Linked DNA regions of Homo sapiens: region 2 is linked to region 1. The links come from fine-mapping of genetic effects on gene expression. A gene starts in region 1. The other region holds a variant in brackets. All regions are shown on one strand. Distances are from middle to middle. Region 1 holds the start of TCEA1 (transcription elongation factor A1). Region 2 overlaps RGS20 (regulator of G protein signaling 20).

The links. PIP is the estimated chance that this variant, and not a neighbour inherited with it, causes the effect.
Region 2: its variant is fine-mapped to the expression of TCEA1 in whole blood (TOPMed, PIP above 0.99).

Annotation. Positions count from the first base shown.
Region 1 is chr8:54,018,792-54,027,854 of GRCh38, reverse strand. It overlaps TCEA1 (transcription elongation factor A1), which reads left to right and starts at 5,407. Exons shown (of 10, transcript NM_006756.4): 1 at 5,407-5,792. The coding sequence starts at 5,730. All of the region lies in intron 12 of LYPLA1-TCEA1 (LYPLA1-TCEA1 readthrough), which reads left to right. It overlaps LOC133039971 (Uncharacterized LOC133039971), which reads right to left and starts at 5,822. Exons shown (of 3, transcript NR_189620.1): 1 at 5,473-5,822. RefSeq lists silencers at 4,354-4,661, 5,789-5,958 and enhancers at 4,083-4,874, 5,469-5,618, 4,875-5,668.
Region 2 is chr8:53,947,391-53,956,453 of GRCh38, reverse strand. It overlaps RGS20 (regulator of G protein signaling 20), which reads right to left. Exons shown (of 5, transcript NM_003702.5): 4 at 2,144-2,378. Among named protein-coding and RNA genes, the nearest start is that of TCEA1, 71 kb to the left of the region's middle. The variant G/C (reference allele first, on the strand shown) is at 4,566.

The DNA of each region.
Region 1 (9,063 bases):
CTGGACGTGGTGGCACGTGCCTATAATCCCAGCTACTTGGGAGGCTGAGGCAGGAGAATTGCTTGAACCCGGGAGGTGGAGGTTGCAGTGAGCAGAGATCACGCCATTGCACTCCAGCCTGGGCAACAAGAGTGAAACTCCGTCTCAAAAAAAAAAAAAGAAGAAAAATCTGACATTAATTACCTAACTTTATGGCTTAAGGAATTGGAAAAAGAGAAGAAAAGTAAACTGCAAAATGTCAGAAGGAAATAATAAAGATTAATTAGAGACAAAAGAAAAGATTAGGGCAGGGAACCATGGCTCATCCCTGTAATCCCAGCACTTTGGGAGGCCAAGGTGGGAGGATCTCTTGAGCCCAAGACATTGAGGCTGTAGTGAGGTATGATTGTGCCACTGCACTCCACCTGAGTGACAGAGCAAAACCCTGTCTCAATAAAATAAAAATTAATAAAATATAATATAAATAAATAACAAAATAAAATACCAAGAATAATTTTAGCCAATGAGGTGAATTTAGCCAAGAGTTGCACACTGAAAATTATGTTATATTGCTTAAAGAAATTAAAATAGATCTAAATAAATGGAAAGATATCCCGTTGTAATGAATTGATAGACTTAATGTTGTTAAAATGGCAATGGTCAATCTTCATGACCTTGGATTTGCAACTCTTTCTGAGATTTGACACCAAAAGCACAAGTAACAAAAGCAATATATGAATTGGACTTTGGTAAAATATAAAGTTTGTGCATGAAAGGTCAATATCAAGAGACTGAAAAGAGGCTGGGCGAGGTGGCCTACATCTGGAATCCCAGCACTTTGGAAGGCCGAGGCGAGAGGATTGCTTGAGTTCAGGAGTTTGAGACCAGCCGGGGCAACATAGTAAGACCCTCTCTCTACAAATAATCCAGAAGTAGCTGGGCATGGTGGTGTGTGCCTGTAGTCCCAGCTACTCAGGAGGCAGAGGCAAGAGATTTGCTTGAACCCAAAAAGTGGAGGCTGCAATGAGCTGTGATCACGCCACAGGACTCAGCTTGGGCGACTGTGAGACCCTGTCTCAAAAAAAAAAAAAAAAAAAGACTGAAAAGATAACCCACAAAATGGGAAGGGAGACAATGATTGAAAAGCATATTTATCTCAAGGCTCTAGAGTCCAGAATTATATAAGAACGTTTACAACTTAACAACATAAACACAACTCAGTTAAAAATTGGGCAAAAGACTAGAATAGACATTTCTCTAAAGAAACCATAGAAGGCCGGGGGAGGTGGCTCATACTTGTAATCCCAGCACTTTGAGAGGCCGACGTGGGTGGATCACCTGAGGTCAGGAGTTCCAGACCAGCCTGGCCAACATGGTGAAGCCCCATCTCTGCTAAAAGTGCGAAAATTAGCCGGGGGTGTTGGTGCTCCCCAGGAATCCCAGCTACTTAGGAGGCTGAGGTGGGAGAATTGCTTGAATCCGGGAGGTGGAGGCTACAGTGAGCTGAGATTGTGCCACTGTAATCCAGCCTGGACTGTTGTCACTCTGTTAGTGAGACCCCATCTCAAAAAAAAAAAAAAAAGAAACCACAGAAATGGCCAACAAGCACATGAAAACATGCTTAACATATTAGGAAAATGCCAATCAAAGACACAATGAGATACCATTTCATACCTCATCAGATAATTAGAATTCTAAAAATGAACTAAACAGGCTGGGCACAGTGTGTCACTCCTGTAATCTCAGCACTTTGGGAGGCCAAGGTGGGCAGATCACCTGAGGTCAGGAGTTCAAGACCAGTCTGGCCAACATGGTGAAACCCAGTCTCTACTAAAAATACAAACCATTCGCTAGGCATGGTGGCAGGCACCTGTAATCCCAGCTACTCCGGAGGCTGAGGCAGGAGAATCACTTGAATCTGGGAGGTCGAGGTTCCAGTGAGCTGAGGTCACGCTATTGCACTCCAGCCTGGGCAATAAGAGCGAAACACTGTATCAAAAAAGAAATAATAAAAATAAAAATAAAGGACAACAACAATTGTTGACAAAGATACAGAGAAGTTCGAGCCCAATGACGTTTCCGATGGGTATGTAAAAATGTTGCAGTTGCTGTGGAAAACAGATGGACAGTTCCTCGAATTTAAATGTAGAATTACCATGAAACCCAACAATTCTACTCCTAGGTTCACACCCAAAAGAACTGAAAACAGGTGTTCCCACAAAACTTTGTACAGGCATGTTCATAGCTGCACTATTCACAAGAGTGAAAATGTGGAGTAGTGAAAGGTGGGTGGAAACAATGCTTATGTCCATCATGTGATGAATGAATTTTAAAAATGTTATCTATAGGAAATGCATATTATTCAGCCATAAAAAGGAATGAAGTACTGACACGGCTACAACACAGGTGAACCTTGAAAACATGCTAAGTGAAAGAAGCCAGTCAGAAAAGGTCACATATTCTAGGATTCTATTTATTAAATATATAAAATGTTCAGAATATTCAAGAGTATAGAGGCAGCCAATTAGTGGTTGCCAAGGGTTGAGGGGAGAAAGGAATCAGGAGTGACTGCTTAATTGATACTGGGTTTCTTTTTGAGGTGATGAACATTTTTGGAAAACTTTTGGGAACTATCGAGTGGTGATGGTGGCACTATATTGTTATCATTAGAAATGCCACTGAATTGTACACTTTTTTATTTTATATTTACTTATTTATTTATGTTTGAGACGGAACCTTGCTCTGTCACCCAGGCTGGAGTGCAGTGGCGCCATCTCAGCTCACTGCAACCTCTACCTCCTGGGTTTAAGCGATTCTCCTGCCTCAGCCTCCCGAGTAGCTGGGATCACAGGCGGCCACCACCAGGACCAGCTAATTTTTGTATTTTTAGTAGAGACGGGGTTTCACTATGTTGGCCAGGCTGTTCTCGAACTCCTGACTTCAGGTGATCCGCCCACCTTGGCCTCCCAAAGTGTTGGGATTACAGGTGTGAGCCACTGCGCCCAGCCAGAGATCTTTATGTTTAAACATAGGTATCTACAGCTATACATTTCCATCTGAGTGTTGCCTTTGCTGTATCCCATGCACACTGGGTATGCACACACCAGGCCTTTACACTTTAAAATAGCTAAAACAGGCCAGGTGAGGTGGCTCACACCTGCAATCCCAGCACTTTGGGAGGCCGAGGTGGGCAGATCACCTGAAGTCAGGAGTTTGAGAACACCCTGCCTAACATAGTAAAATCCCATCTCTACTAAAAATACAAAAATTACCAGGGCGTGGTGGTGGGCACCTGTAATCCTAGCTACTTGGGAGGCTGAGGCAGGAGAATTGCCTGAACCTGGGAGGCAAAGGTTGCAGTGAGCCGAGATCACGCCACTGCACTCCAGCCTGGGTGATAGGCCGAGACTCCGTCTAAAAAAAAATAAAAAATAAAATAAAATGAATTAAAATCTAAAAAAATAGTTAAAAATGGTCTTAGACAAGGTAGCATGAAAAAAGAAGAAAAGTAGTTAAATGGATAAATTTTGTGTTATGTGTATTTTAAAGAAAAACATCAACTGATTCTTTGGGAAAAAAGAAAAATGACAGAATTATTACAATAAATGTACAAATCCACATTATAAAGGGAAATTTTTACATACTCATTAATTGAGGCATGAAGCAGACAGCAAACAGGGATGTAAATATTGCAACATTTTCTGTAGAAAACAATTTTTTTCTGTGTGTTCTTTTTTAGAACACATAGATATGCATAAAAATTGACGAGATAGGCCGGGCGCAGTGGCTCACGCCTGTAATCCCAGCACTTTGGAAGGCCGAGGTGGGCGGATCACCTGAGGCCAGGAGTTCGAGATCGGCCTGGCCAACATGGTGAAACTTTGTCTCTACTAAAAACACAAAAAATTAGCCGGGTGTGCTGGTGGGCGCCTGTAGTCCCAGCTACTCAGGAGACTGAGGCAGGAAAATCGCTTGAACCTGGGAGGTGGAGGTTGCAGTGAGCCAGCCGAGATGGCACCACTGCACTCCAGCCTGGTCAATAAGAGCAAAACTCCGTGTCAAAAAAAAAAAAAAATTGACAAAATAAATCTCAACAAATACTACAATTTAAGCTGGAAATCAATAATAAAAAGATAATTTAAAAATGAAACAAAATAGGGAAACGATCCCAATACTTCTCCCCCAAATGAGTGAGTCATAACCAGGAAAAACCTGTCATCTCAGTATAGAAAGAACATTATTAGGCGGTGTATTTTGATGAATGATAGTTACGTGGTGTGGGAGTTATACCTGCAAATAGCATGAGTTGGTCGTGAAGGGTTTAAGTGGGGAAAGACTTTTTGGAGGAGCCTGCATTCTCCACTATGAACCCTGTCACAACTTAAGTCACCTTCCTCTCTGATCCTCAGAAGCTGGTGGGATGCCTTGTGTAATTTCTGACCAGAAGGTTTCCGTCAACTGTTCTTCAACTATTCAAAATGCCATGCCCAAGACTGGTTCTTAGTACTCCAGGAGCTCACGAACGATTTCACCTTTATTTATTTTTTATTTTTTTTGAGACGGAGTTTCGCTCTTGTCGCCCAGGCTAGAATGCAATGGCAGTCTCGGCTCACCGCAACTTCCGCCTCCCGGGTTCAAACGATTCTCCTGCCTCAGCCTCCCGAGTGGCTGGGATCACAGGCCATGACGCCCGGCTAATTTTGTATTTTTAGTAGTGACGATGTTTCTCCATGTTGGTCAGGCTGGTCTCGAACTCCTCACCTCAGTTGATCCGCCCGCCTCGGCCTCCCAAAGTGCTGGGATTACAGGCATGAGCCACCGCGCCCGGCCGATTTTTTTTAAAAAAAGGAACGCTTAGCCGGGTGCAGTGGCTCAGGTCTGTAATCGCAGCACTTTGGGAGGCCGAGGCGGGCGGATCACTAGGTCAAGAGATCAAAACCATCCTGGCCAACATGGTGAAACCCTGTCTCTACTAAAAATACAAAAAATTAGCAGGGCGTGGTGGCGGGCGCCTGTAGTCCCAGCTACTCGGGAAACTAAAGCAGGAGAATCGCTTGAACCCGGGGGGGGGAGCTTGCAGTGAGTGGAGATCGCGCCACTGTACTCCAGCCAGGCGACAGAACGAGGCTCCGTCTCAAAAAAAAAGGAACTCTTAAAACGAGTAACTCCGTAACCTAACTTAGAGGACACGGGTTCCATTTTTCCCCGTAGCAGTCTCCTATGGAGAAAGTGCTTGGCTTCCCACAGACTTTAAAACCTGCCAAAGTTCCATGCTCGGAATCTGCCCCCGTTTCGAGATACTTGGGCCTCCGCGAGTTCTAAAACTCCGGGATGTCCCGATGCAATAGGGGGCCGAAAACCCGCCCCGTGAGGGGGCGGGACCGGAGGTGAACGCGCAGCAAAACCGGGCGCCTTCCACGACCCTCTAGCCGGAAGCCACGCCTGCCCACTAGCCCGACGCCCGCCTGGCGGGAACATGGGCTCGCCCCTCACCAGCGATCTGCAGTCAGTTGGTAGCGCCTGCACGTCGCGCGCGGTGTTCGATTGTCGCTGCCTGGGGAGGAGGAGCCGGAGCCGCCGCCGCCGCCGCCGCCGCCGCGGGCTTCGTTCGTAAGGAAGGGGGCCTAGGCCCGGGCCTGCGGTGGTGGGGGTTGCTGCGCGCCGGGGGTCGCTCCTGCTGTGTCTTCCGCTCCAGCTTCGCCCACTTCCCCTTGCCAGCGGGGTGGGCGCGGAGAAGACCTGCCGGAGCCATGGAGGACGAAGTGGTCCGCTTTGCCAAGAAGATGGACAAGATGGTGCAGAAGAAGAACGCGGTGAGCGCGGCGAGCGGCGCGGGCCGGGAGGGAGGCCGGGCCGCGGTCCGGCCCGAGGGGGCCGCCCCCTCCCTCCTTCTCCCTCCCCTCCCCCTGCAGCCTCCCGTCTGGGAGCCGGGCCCGCCGCGCCCGCGTCCCCGGGGAGGGTGTCCGGGCCCGGGGCGTCGGGTCCCGCGGCAACCTGCGTTAGGACCCGCTCGCTCTTGTATTTCCAGTCCCTGCTCGCTGGTGCCGTGTAATAAACCTAATCGATTTAGGGATTAGGGCACGCTCTCCGTTGACTTTAAACTTTCGTGCTAGTAAAACCTTGGCAATTTAGCTTAGGAATTGAAGCGTAGAAAGTCCTCAGAACTTGAAAGAATGGAGTCTTCCGTGATCCGTGGCCAACATCTAGAAAGAGCATCAAATAGAGGCTTGTGATCGGTATTAGACATCGGGCTGGTAAAATGTAAAACTTCTGTGTCTTATTTTTGAAGAGGGCTGAACGTCCGCCTGGTTATCTCAACTGTGCTACATGTTTGCTTAGCGATTAAAAAGGTAAAGTGTGCCAGTTTCTTGGCGAGTTGCTAAACGTTTTATAAAAAGCGGGTTTTGTCCTGTCGTAATGTACAGAAGAGTTAGGACTACAGCACGCACACTCACCGGAATGCTGGTAGAGGGATTTGGACAAATTATATTGTTGGGTATTTTCTAAGTGGTTTACAGTTAATACTGGTGGCATTTTTTTTGTTATTGATGAATATTCATGTAAGCATATGCTTTTGTGGTTTGTAAGAAATCCTCATACGACCAGTTTCTACAGCTTGCCCATTTGTGTGGCACTTTCAGTCCCTTGCTTCAGACTCATCTGTTCTTAGCTAAACATATTTTTTCGAGACGGAGTTTAACTCTTGTTGCACAAGCTGGAGTGCAATGGCTTGATCTCGGCTCACTGCAACCTCCGCCTCTCGGGTTCAAGTGATTCTCCTGCCTCAGCCTCCCGAGTAGCTGGGATTACAGACGTGCGCCACCACGCCTGGCTATTTTTTTGTATTTTTAGTAGAAACGGGGTTTCACCATCTTAACCAGGCTGGTCTCGAACTCCTGACCTCAGGTGATCCGCCCACCTCAGCCTCCCAAAGTGCTGGGATTACAGGCGTGAGGCCACTGCGCCTGGCCTCTCAGGTAAACTTATATAATTGTCCTCACCTAAATTTGTTTAACCACGTTCGGCACATTTTCATCATCAGTGTACCTGAAATAATTTTTCTTCCATCTATGAAGTAAATTCCATGTCAAACTAATGTGAAGAGAAAAGGGATGCTCTGATTTGTACAGCACTTTGGAGTTAAAAAGCATCTGCTCAAAATTCTTTTGTGACTCACACAGAGCTGTGAGTACATAAAGGGTATCCATTTTACAGATTAAGACACTGAGAGAGATTAAGTACTACTACTTAAATTAAGTACTGTGTAGTTTGGAATAAGCCAGGACCCAGGTTTTCTTCTGGACAGCATGCTTTCCACATGACAGCTAGATCAGGAATTAGTGTTAACACTAAATACGTAAGACTTCAAACATCCTCTGTTCCCCTTTTTCCTTTAACAGGTGCATTGCCTCGTATTTCATTTCATACCCTGTTAATCTGTATTTGCAAATTTTGGCCTTTTAAAGTATTTCCTGTTTATTTTCTGTTCTAGATATTACCAGTGCCATTTTTCCTCCCCATTGATATGGCCCTTCATTTCCCACTTCAAATTCTGGTTATTTGATAGGTTATCTGGTTATTGGAACATTTTCGTTATTTTGTTTAAACTGGAAGATTTTTCTCTGGTCTGGAGATCCCCAGACTTGCACAGTAGAAGCTCCCAGGGAAAAAAAGCCATTTGTTGGGTAATGTTCTCTCCAACTTAGGCTGTAATATGTATCCTTTAATCATCTAATGCATTAGATGTTTGCTTGATTTTGTTTCTTTCCTTGTAATAATGTTTCTAAGTAATTTTTTAGTGGGCAGGTGTGGAGAAGATAAATTCATATTTATCTGCAGTTCTCAAATCGTCAACAAATTTTCAGATCTTTTGTAATGAGTCTGGAAGAGAATGAGAATAAACTCCACAAATAATCCTCAAATCTAAGTTTTCTTCTCAAATCTAAGTTTTCAGGTAGTTCAAAACTTTTCCAGTATGAAAACTTGCCTCCCAAAAAGAAAGGTAAAACTGACTGGCTCTTGTACTTTTGTTTTCCCCAGCATTTTCCCTGCCTGTCCTCTGGAAATTCAAACAGGCTGATGAAATACAGAGAAAGAGAAATGGTCAGAATGACACTCCTCTTTTCCCCAACTGCATCATCAGCCTACAGATGGCTTTTTAAGTGTTCAGTAATTCAACAAAATGTGTTTTAGGGGTTGTAGAATTATGGTATATGTGTTTCTCTTTTTTTCGGTAGTTTTCAGATTTTTCTCTCAGCTTTTTTAATGTTTTATATTATGAAAAAGTTAACTTTTTTTTTTTTTTTTTGAGACAGTGTCACTCTGTTACCCAGGCTAGAGTGCAGTGGTGCAATCTCGGCTCACTGCAACCTCCGCCTCCCCAGTTCAAGCGATTCTCTTGCCTCAGCCTCCCTAGAAGCTGGGACTACAGGTGTGCACCACCATGCCTGGCTAATTTTCGTATTTTTAGTAGAGATGGGATTTCAACGTATTGGCCAGGCTGGTCTTGAACTCCTGATCTCAGGTGATCTGCCCGTCCTGGCCTCCCAGAGTGCTGGGATTACAGATGTGAGCCACTGCGCCCAGCCTGAAAAAGTTAACTTTGAAGAGTAATAGTTGTCATCAGAATTGACAAATTTAAGTGCAAATTTAGATATCATTTAAAAAAATATTTTAACATGCTGCTGCTTTACCTGAATAATTTTGTTTTACTAAAACCATAGGTGTCACACTTAACTAAAAACAGCTTACCATTTATTGAGCTATTACTCTGAGCCAGGTATTCTGCTAAATACTTACCCACCTTATCCCATTTATTCCTCAGGCAACTTTGCAAGATGAGTATTATCCTCATTCTGAAAATGAGGATGCTAAGTATTTAGAATAGTCTTAAGCCAAATAGCTAGTGAATGGCCAAGTGAAGATGTGAATCTAAATCTGTTTTGCTCCAAAGCTAGTACTCCTCTCTTAAGCTACAGTGTCTCTCTAGAAGACCCTTGCATCTGCTCTTGAACCATGCATGGATACAATTAAGTGAATACAAAATCAGGAAGTAAGAGTATGAACTTGCTGTTTTGGGGCAGG
Region 2 (9,063 bases), 71 kb after region 1:
TTCTCCAAATTCACTCTGCAGCCCTACTGGTCTTTCAAAAATCAAAATTTGATGATATAAACAGGCTAAAATCCAAGGGCTTCCCAAGATAAAAATCCAGACACTTCGCCATGATGCCCAAACCTCTCCATGCTCTCCGACTACCCCTTCTCTAAGTCTCCTCCTGCTGCCTGCCCCCAGCCCTAATAGTTTGGTAAGCACCCTCCCTTTCTGGCACAATCTGTGTATACTTGCAGTGATCACACAACTTCATGCTCTTCCCCTGGGCTCGCCTGGTCCTGTCTCCTGGGATGTCCCCATCCTGCTGTGTTTGTGGAAATTTCCTTTTCACTATCCTTGGTCCATCTGTAGCCTCCTTGAGTATTTTTCTCATTCTCGCCCACCCCTTTGTGGATGGCTCACCCCCGAGCCCCAGTGAGTGCTGAGAGTGTGGCCAGGGGTCCTGGTCTGTCCGCCCACATCTCCAGGAGCTCCATGACAGGAGAGGCCCTGCTTCTTCAACTTGACATTCCTGTCGGCACATAGTAGGAAATAACTAATAGTTTTATAATTAGAGCTACAAGGCACCCAATTTGAGAACAATCTGACCTCCTAAATTTTATTTTATTATTATTATTTTTTTGAAATGGAGTTTTGCTCTTGTTGCCCAGGCTGGAGTGCAATGACGCAATCTCTACTCACTGCAACCTCCGCCTCCCGGGTTGAAGTGATTCTCCTGCCTCAGTCTCCTGAGTAGCTGGGATTACAGATGAATGCTACCACACCTGGCTAATTTTTTGTATTTTTAGTAGAGATGGGGTTTCACCATGTTGGCCAGGCTGGTCTCGAACTCCTGACCTCAGGTGATCCACCTGCCTCGGCCTGCCAAAATGCTGCGATTACAGAAGTTGGCCACTGTGCCAGGGCTGGCCTCCTACATTTTAGATTTGAAGAAACTGAAACACTGACAGGTGGAAACTTGCCCAATCTCATTCATCTGATAATTTCTTGAATGAAAAAGCCAGCCTGGGGAAAACCTTTTCAGCATCAGTATCACATCTGTGATGCTGCTGCTCTATAACATCAAGATACCTAAATACAAGATTTTTCTCAGAATAACAAGATAATTTTATTTAAAGGAACGTCTTAGGGTATAATATTTGTAAACAGTGTTCAGTGTCAAATGGAGACTCCAGGGGATACTTTTTCCAGAAAAATGCACAAAATTTTTCACAGATTTCAGAGGACACTTGGAGCCCTCTGCAAGTCCACAGTCAAAGTGATCTGAAAACCGTGAATGTGGGTGCAGCTGTTTGGTCATGTTCAGCTTGACCCAGAACATCAACTGCAAAATGTAGAAAACAGCTGCACCCGCATTCACGGTATTCAGATCCCTTTGACTGTGGACCTGCAGAGCGGCTCCAAATGTCCTCTGAAATTGGTGAAAAATTTTGTGCATTTTTCTGGAAAAAGTTAAAAGTAATGGCGAGGCCGGGCACGGTGGCTCACGCCTGTAATCCCAGCACTTTGGGAGGCTAAGGCAGGTGGATCACGAGGTCAAGAGATCAAGACCATCCTGGCCAACATGGTGAAACCCTGTCTCTACTAAAAATACAAAAATTAGCCAGGCCTGGTGGTGCGCACCTATAATCCCAGCTACTCTGGAGGCTGAGGCAGGAGAATTGCTTGAACCCGGGAGGCAGAAGTTGCAGTGAGCCAAGATTGCACCATTGCACTCCAGCCTGGGCGACAGAGTGAGACTCCATCTCAAAAAAAAAAAAAAAAGGCAATTACTTTTGTTTAGTTTTTTGAGATGGAGTTTTGCTGTTGTCACCCAGGCTGGAGTGCAATGGCACAATCTCGGCTCACTGCATCCTCTGCCTCCTAGGTTCAAGCGATTCTCCTGCCTCAGCCTCCCAAGTAGCTGGGATTACAGGCGCCCATGACCACACCAGGCTAATTTTTGTATTTTTAGTAGAGACGGGGTTTCACCATGTTGGTCAGGCTGGTCTCCAACTCCTCACCTCAGGTGATCCGCCCGCCTCAGCCTCCCAAAGTGCTGGGATTACAGACGTGAGCCACTGTGCCCGGCCTATGGCAATTACTTTTGCACCAAGTTAATTTTACCAACAGCCTTGGGAAAAGGCATCTCGTGGTCACATACCTCCTTAGGAGAAAGTATAGAAATGTAGTCTTCATAGATTATCCTTGCTTTCTCTTCAATAATGTTTTTATTAGCTTCCTTTTTCAGTTCCTCACAGGCCATCCAGAAGAGCATATTTTCCTCACTGAATTCTGTTCGGAGGAATTCACGGAATGCATTCCTTCCTGCTGGAGTGACCATTAATTTGTCAAATGACTGAGCCCAGGCGTTGACTTCTTCCAGAGTAGGAGCAGGGCTTCGTGGAGACCAAAAGAGAGGGGGCAAAAGGGAACTGTTAGTGGTAGTTAATTGGAATTCATCATTAGGAACATATCTTTTCCTCCTCCAAGAATGAAAAATATATGCATTTAGGCCCTTTTAGGAAGGGAAAGAACTGTTCGCATTTCCTCAAACCTTTGGGAAAAACACATGAATATGATACTTTCAAATTTTTTGCTGGATTGCATACCAAAAGGCTTGCAAACCAAGTTGCTAGAATAAATGCTAAGAACATGCTTGTTTACAAATGGGCACATCTTGAAATATTTTAAAAACTGTAAATGTAAAGAAAAATCCTGCAACCATCTGACCCAAAACTTCCTAATCATCTGTGATGAGTTCTGTACTACGACAGAACTAAGTCAGATTTGACAACATTAAACCTCTGGAACAATAGAGCAAGTGTCTGTTTAATATATTTTAAAATTATATAATATTTGAGAAAGAGAATATATGTAGTATAAGTGCAAGTTATAAATGCCACCGCTGTACTGTCCAAAGGTGACAACAAAATGAACACTTTTTTTTTTTTGAGACAGAGTCTCACTTTGTTGCTGAGGCTAGAGTGCAGTGGTGTGATCACAGCTTACTGAAGCCTCGACTTACTAGGCTCATATGATTCTCTCTCCTTGGCCTCCCAAGTAGCAGACCCTGCAGGCACGTGCCACCACGCCCAGCTAACTTTTTGTATTCTTTGTAGAGTCAGGTCTTACTATGTTGCCTAGGCTGCTCTCAAACTCTTGGGCTCAAGCGATCTGCCCACCTTGGCCTCCCAGAGTGCTGGGATTACAAGTGTGAGCCACTGCGTCTGGCTCACTTTATAAAAAACTTATAAACATTTAAAAACTATAATTAGGGGGTGCAAGTGCACTTTTGTTACATGGATATATTGCACAGTGGTGAAGCCTGTGTTTTTAGTGTAGCCATCAATGGGATAGTGTACATTGTACTCATTAGGTAATTTGTCATCCCTTACCTATCTCCCACCCTCCCATCCACCTTTCCGAGTCTCTAGTGTAAATGAACACTTATGAATGCGCCATTTTCCTTAAGAACCAGAACAGCACTGATAATGTTGCATTTATTTTCGTGCTACTTCTACTTGCTACTGTCTCTTGGCTTTGTCCTCTAGGGAACTGCTATACTTGATTTTGGGCTTACCCCTTTGAGTTAATTCTTACTTCTGTCATAATTATATTGAGATCAGAAAACATAGCTTAATAATGATCCTTAATATCTCTTTTATCTTGTTTCCATAGTTTCAAATGTATGTATGTAATCCTGAAAAATGTAGTCTTTAGTTTTTATTTCTTTATTTTATTTTCTTGAGACAGAGTCTCTCTTTGTTGCCCAGGCTGGAGTACAATGGCACGATCTCGGCTCACTGCAACCTCCGCCTTCCGGGTTCAAGTGATTCTCCTGCCTCAGCCTCCCAAGTAGTTGGGATTACAGGTGCTTACCACCACACCCGGGTAATTTTTTGTATTTTTAGTAGAGATGGCGTTTCACCATGTTGGCCAGGCTGTCTGGAACTCCTGACCTCAGGTGATCCACCCACCTTGGCCTCCCGAAGTGCTGGGATTATAGGTGTGAGCCACTGTGCCCAGCCAGTTTTTTTTTTTAAGTTTATCAAAATGGTTGACTATATGTTGTCTTCTGCAACTTGCTTTTTCCACCCAACATTAAGTTTCTTTTTTCTTTTTTGAGACAGAGTATTGCTCTGTTGCCCAGGCTGGAGTGCAGTGGTGTGATCTCGGCTCACCACAACCTCTGCAATACTCTGTCTCAAAAAAAAAAAAAAAAAAAAATTAGCTGGGCATGGTGGCATGTGCCTGTAATCCCAGCTACTCGGGAGGCTGAGCCAGGAGAATCACTTGAACCCGGGAGGCAGATGTTGCAGTGAGCCGAGATTGCACCACTGCACTCCAGCCTGGGTGACAGAGTAAGACTCTGTCTCAAAAAAATAATAATGATGTAAAATAAAATAAAATAAATGTCAAACATATGAGGATTTTTAGTTCACTTTTTAATTTCTGTTTTTTTAGTCTTACTCTGTTGCCCAGGCTGGAGTGCAGTGGCGCGATCTCGGCTCACTGCAACCTCTGCCTCCCGGGTTCAAGCGATTCTCCTGCCTCAGCCTCCCGACTAGCTGGGATTACAGGTG[G/C]GTGCCACCACCCCCAGCTGATTTTTGTATTTTTAGTAGAGACGGAGTTTCACCATGTTGGCCAGGCTGGCCTCAAACTCCCTACCTCAGGTGATCCGCCTGCCTCGGCCTCCCAAAGTGCTGGGATCACAGGCGTGTGCCGCAGTGCTCGGCTTTATTTTTTAATTTCTAACTTCTATTTGAATTATATTGGTGTCAGTACAGTTTGATTAATTATGTTCCTTGAAATTTATTGAGATACTTTATAAGGTAATGCTTGGTCAGTTATCATAACTGTTCATGTTTGCTTGAGAAGGATATATATTTTCAAATGTTTAAATCCAAGTTTTTGTAAATGACCAATAAATATAGCTTATTAATTAATTTCTCCCTGTTTCTTTTTTTCTTTTTCTTTTTTTCTGATACAGGGTATCACTGTGTTGCCCAGGCTGGAGTGTAGTGGTGTGATCATGGCTCACTGCAGCCTCAACCTCCTGGGCTCAATTGACTCTCCCACCTCAGCCTCTAGAGCAGCTGGGACTGCAGGCACGCACCATCACAGCCAGCTAAATTTTTTTGTATTTTTTTGTAGAGATGAGATTTTGTCATGTTGCTCAGGCTGGTCTCAAACTCCTGGACTCAAGCTTTCCCCCATCCTTGGTCTCCCAAAGTGCTGGGACTACAGGCAGGAGCCACTGTGCCTGGCCCAAATTTCTATAATTTGTCTAAAATTTCTATCTGTTAGAAATATCAGTAACTAAGAAAGGAATGTGGCAATCTCCCTCTATCGTTAGCAGATTTGTAAATGTCTTGCTCTAGCAATTTTTGCTTTTGATGTTTGAGATTATTTTATTAGGTACATACAAGTTGTTACACTTTCCTAGTAAGCTAAATCATTTAACGTTCTAGTAGTGACTTGCTCTGTCTCTAAAGTGCTTTAAAATTTTTTAAAGTCTATTTTGTTTACTGCTAGTATGGGGAAGAAGTATAGATTAGTGGATAAAAACAGACTCTGGCCTGTAATCCCAGCACTTTGGGAGGCTGAGGTGGACAGATCACTTGAGCTCAGGAGTTTGAGACCAACCTGGGCAACATGGTGAAACCCCGTCTCTACTAAAAATACAAAAATTAGCCAAGTGTGGTGGCCCATGCCTGTAGTCCCAGGTACTCGGGAGGCTGAGGCAGGAGAATCACTTGAACACAGGAGGCAGAGGTTGCAGTGAGCCAAGATCGTGCCACCGCATGCCAGCCTGGGTGACAGAATGAGACCCTGTCTAAAAAAAAAAAAACAAAACATTAATGTCAATTCTTATCATTCTATCCTCCATTTATTTTAACTTATTTTTATATAGGTTGAACATCCAAAATTCAAAAATCTAAAATCCATATTGCTCCAAAATCTGAAACTTTTTGAGCATTGACATGACACTCAAAGGAAATGCTCATTGGAATAATTTGAAGTTTTGGACTTGGGATGTTCAACTGGTAAGTATAATGCAAATATTCCGAAATCTGAAAAAATCTGAAATCTGAGACATTTCTAGTTCCAAGCATTTTGGATAAGGGAAACTCAAACTGTATTTCAATCTCCTTGTTACGTGGGTCTTTTTGGATACCTTCAGGTTCACTAATTATTTATTTAGTTGTATCTAATCTTCTATTTCAATCATCAATTTTTTTAAAATTTGAACAATAATATTTGATTTTTAAAACTTCTATTTTATTTCTTTTCAAATCTTCCAGGTCATTTCTTAAAGAAATGTGTTAACACGCTGGGCGTAGTGGCTCACGCTTGTAATCCTAGCACTTTGGGAGAACGAGGTGGGCGAATCACCTGAGGTCAGGAGTTCGAGACCAGCCTGGCCAATATGGGGAAACCCCATCTCTACTAAAAATACAAAAATTAGCTGGGCATGGTGGTGGGCGCCTGTAATCCCAGTTACTTGGGAGGCTAAGGCATGAGAATCGCTTGAACCCAGGAGGCAGAGGTTGCAGTGAGTCAAGATTGCACCACTGTACTCCAGCCTGGGTGACAGAGCTAGACTCCATCTCAAAAAAAAAAAAGAAATGTGTTAACAGTGTTTACTCTCTTAGAGGTTAGACCACTTTCTTTACTTATATACCATTAAATTTTTGGCAAGCATCTATAGCTTTTTCTTTCTCCCTCTCCCTTTATTGATTGATTGATTGATTGAGGCAGAGTCTTGCTCTGTCTCCTAGGCTGGGGTGCAGTGGTGCAATCTTGGCTCACTGCAACCTCTGCCTCCAGTGTTCAAGCAATTCTCCCTGCCTCAACCTTCCAAACAGCTGGGATTACAGGCGTTTGCCACCACGCCCCGCTAATTTTTGTATTTTAATAGAAAAGGGGTTTCACCATGTCAGCCAGGCTGGTCTCAAACTCCTGACCTCAGGTGATCCGCATGCTTTGACCTTCCAAAGTGCTGGGATTACAGGTGTGAGCCACCGTGCCCACCCACCGTATATTATATAATATACTTTTATTTTTAAAATATAACTGTTTCATGTTTGCTTGAGAAGGATATATATTTTCAAATGTTTAAATCCAAGTTTTTGTAAATGACCAATAAATATATATACTGTATCTTATATATAGTATATATAAATATATACTGTATCTTATATATAGTATATATAAATATATACTGTATCTTATATATAGTATATATAAATATATACTGTATCTTATATAGCATATATAAATATATACTGTATCTTATATAGCATATATAAATATATACTGTATCTTATATAGCATATATAAATATATACTGTATCTTATATAGCATATATAAATATATACTGTATCTTATATAGCATATATAAATATATACTGTATCTTATATAGCATATATAAATATATACTGTATCTTATATAGCATATATAAATATATACTGTATCTTATATAGCATATGTAAATATGTACTGTATCTTATATAGCATATGTAAATATGTACTGTATCTTATATAGCATATGTAAATATGTACTGTATCTTATATAGCATATGTAAATATGTACTGTATCTTATATAGCATATGTAAATATGTACTGTATCTTATATAGCATATGTAAATATGTACTGTATCTTATATAGCATATGTAAATATGTACTGTATCTTATATAGCATATGTAAATATGTACTGTATCTTATATAGCATATGTAAATATGTACTGTATCTTATATAGCATATGTAAATATGTACTGTATCTTATATAGCATATGTAAATATGTACTGTATCTTATATATAGCATATGTAAATATGTACTGTATCATATATAGCATATGTAAATATGTACTGTATCATATATAGCATATGTAAATATGTACTGTATCATATATAGCATATGTAAATATATACTGTATCATATATAGCATATGTAAATATATACTGTATCATATATAGCATATGTAAATATATACTGTATCATATATAGCATATGTAAATATATACTGTATCTTATATATAGCATATGTAAATATATACTGTATCTTATATATAGCATATATAAATATATACTGTGTCTTATATATAGCATATATAAATATATACTGTCTTATATATAGCATATGTATATATACTGTATCATATATCGTATATATAAATATATATACTATAACTTACATATAGTATATATACTATCATATATATAGCATATATAAATATATATACTATCTTATATATAGCATATGTAAATATATATACTATATCATATATATAGCATATATAAATATATATACTATATCATATATATAGCATATATATACTACATCTTATATATAGCATATATATACTACATCTTATATATAGCATATATAAATATATATACTATATCCTACATATAGCATATATACTTATATATAGTATATATACTATCATATATATAGCATATATAAATATATATACTATCTTATATATAGCATATGTAAATATATATACTATATCTTATATATATAGCATATGTAAATATATATACTATATCATATATATAGCATATATATACTACATCTTATATATAGCATATATAAATGTATATACTATATCCTATATATAGCATATATAAATGTATATACTATATCCTATATATAGCATATATAAATGTATATACTATATCCTATATATAGCATATATAAATGTATGTACTATATCCTATATATAGCATATATAAATGTATGTACTATATCCTATATATAGCATATATAAATGTATGTACTATATCCTATATATAGCATATATAAATGTATGTACTATATCCTATATATAGCATATATAAATGTATGTACTATATCCTATATATAGCATATATAAATGTATATACTATATCCTATATAGCATATATAAATGTATATACTATATCCTATATAGCATATATAAATGTATATACTATATCCTATATAGCATATATAAATGTATATACTATATCTTATATATAGCATATATAAATGTATATACTATATCATATATAGCATATATAAATGTACTATATCTTATATATAGC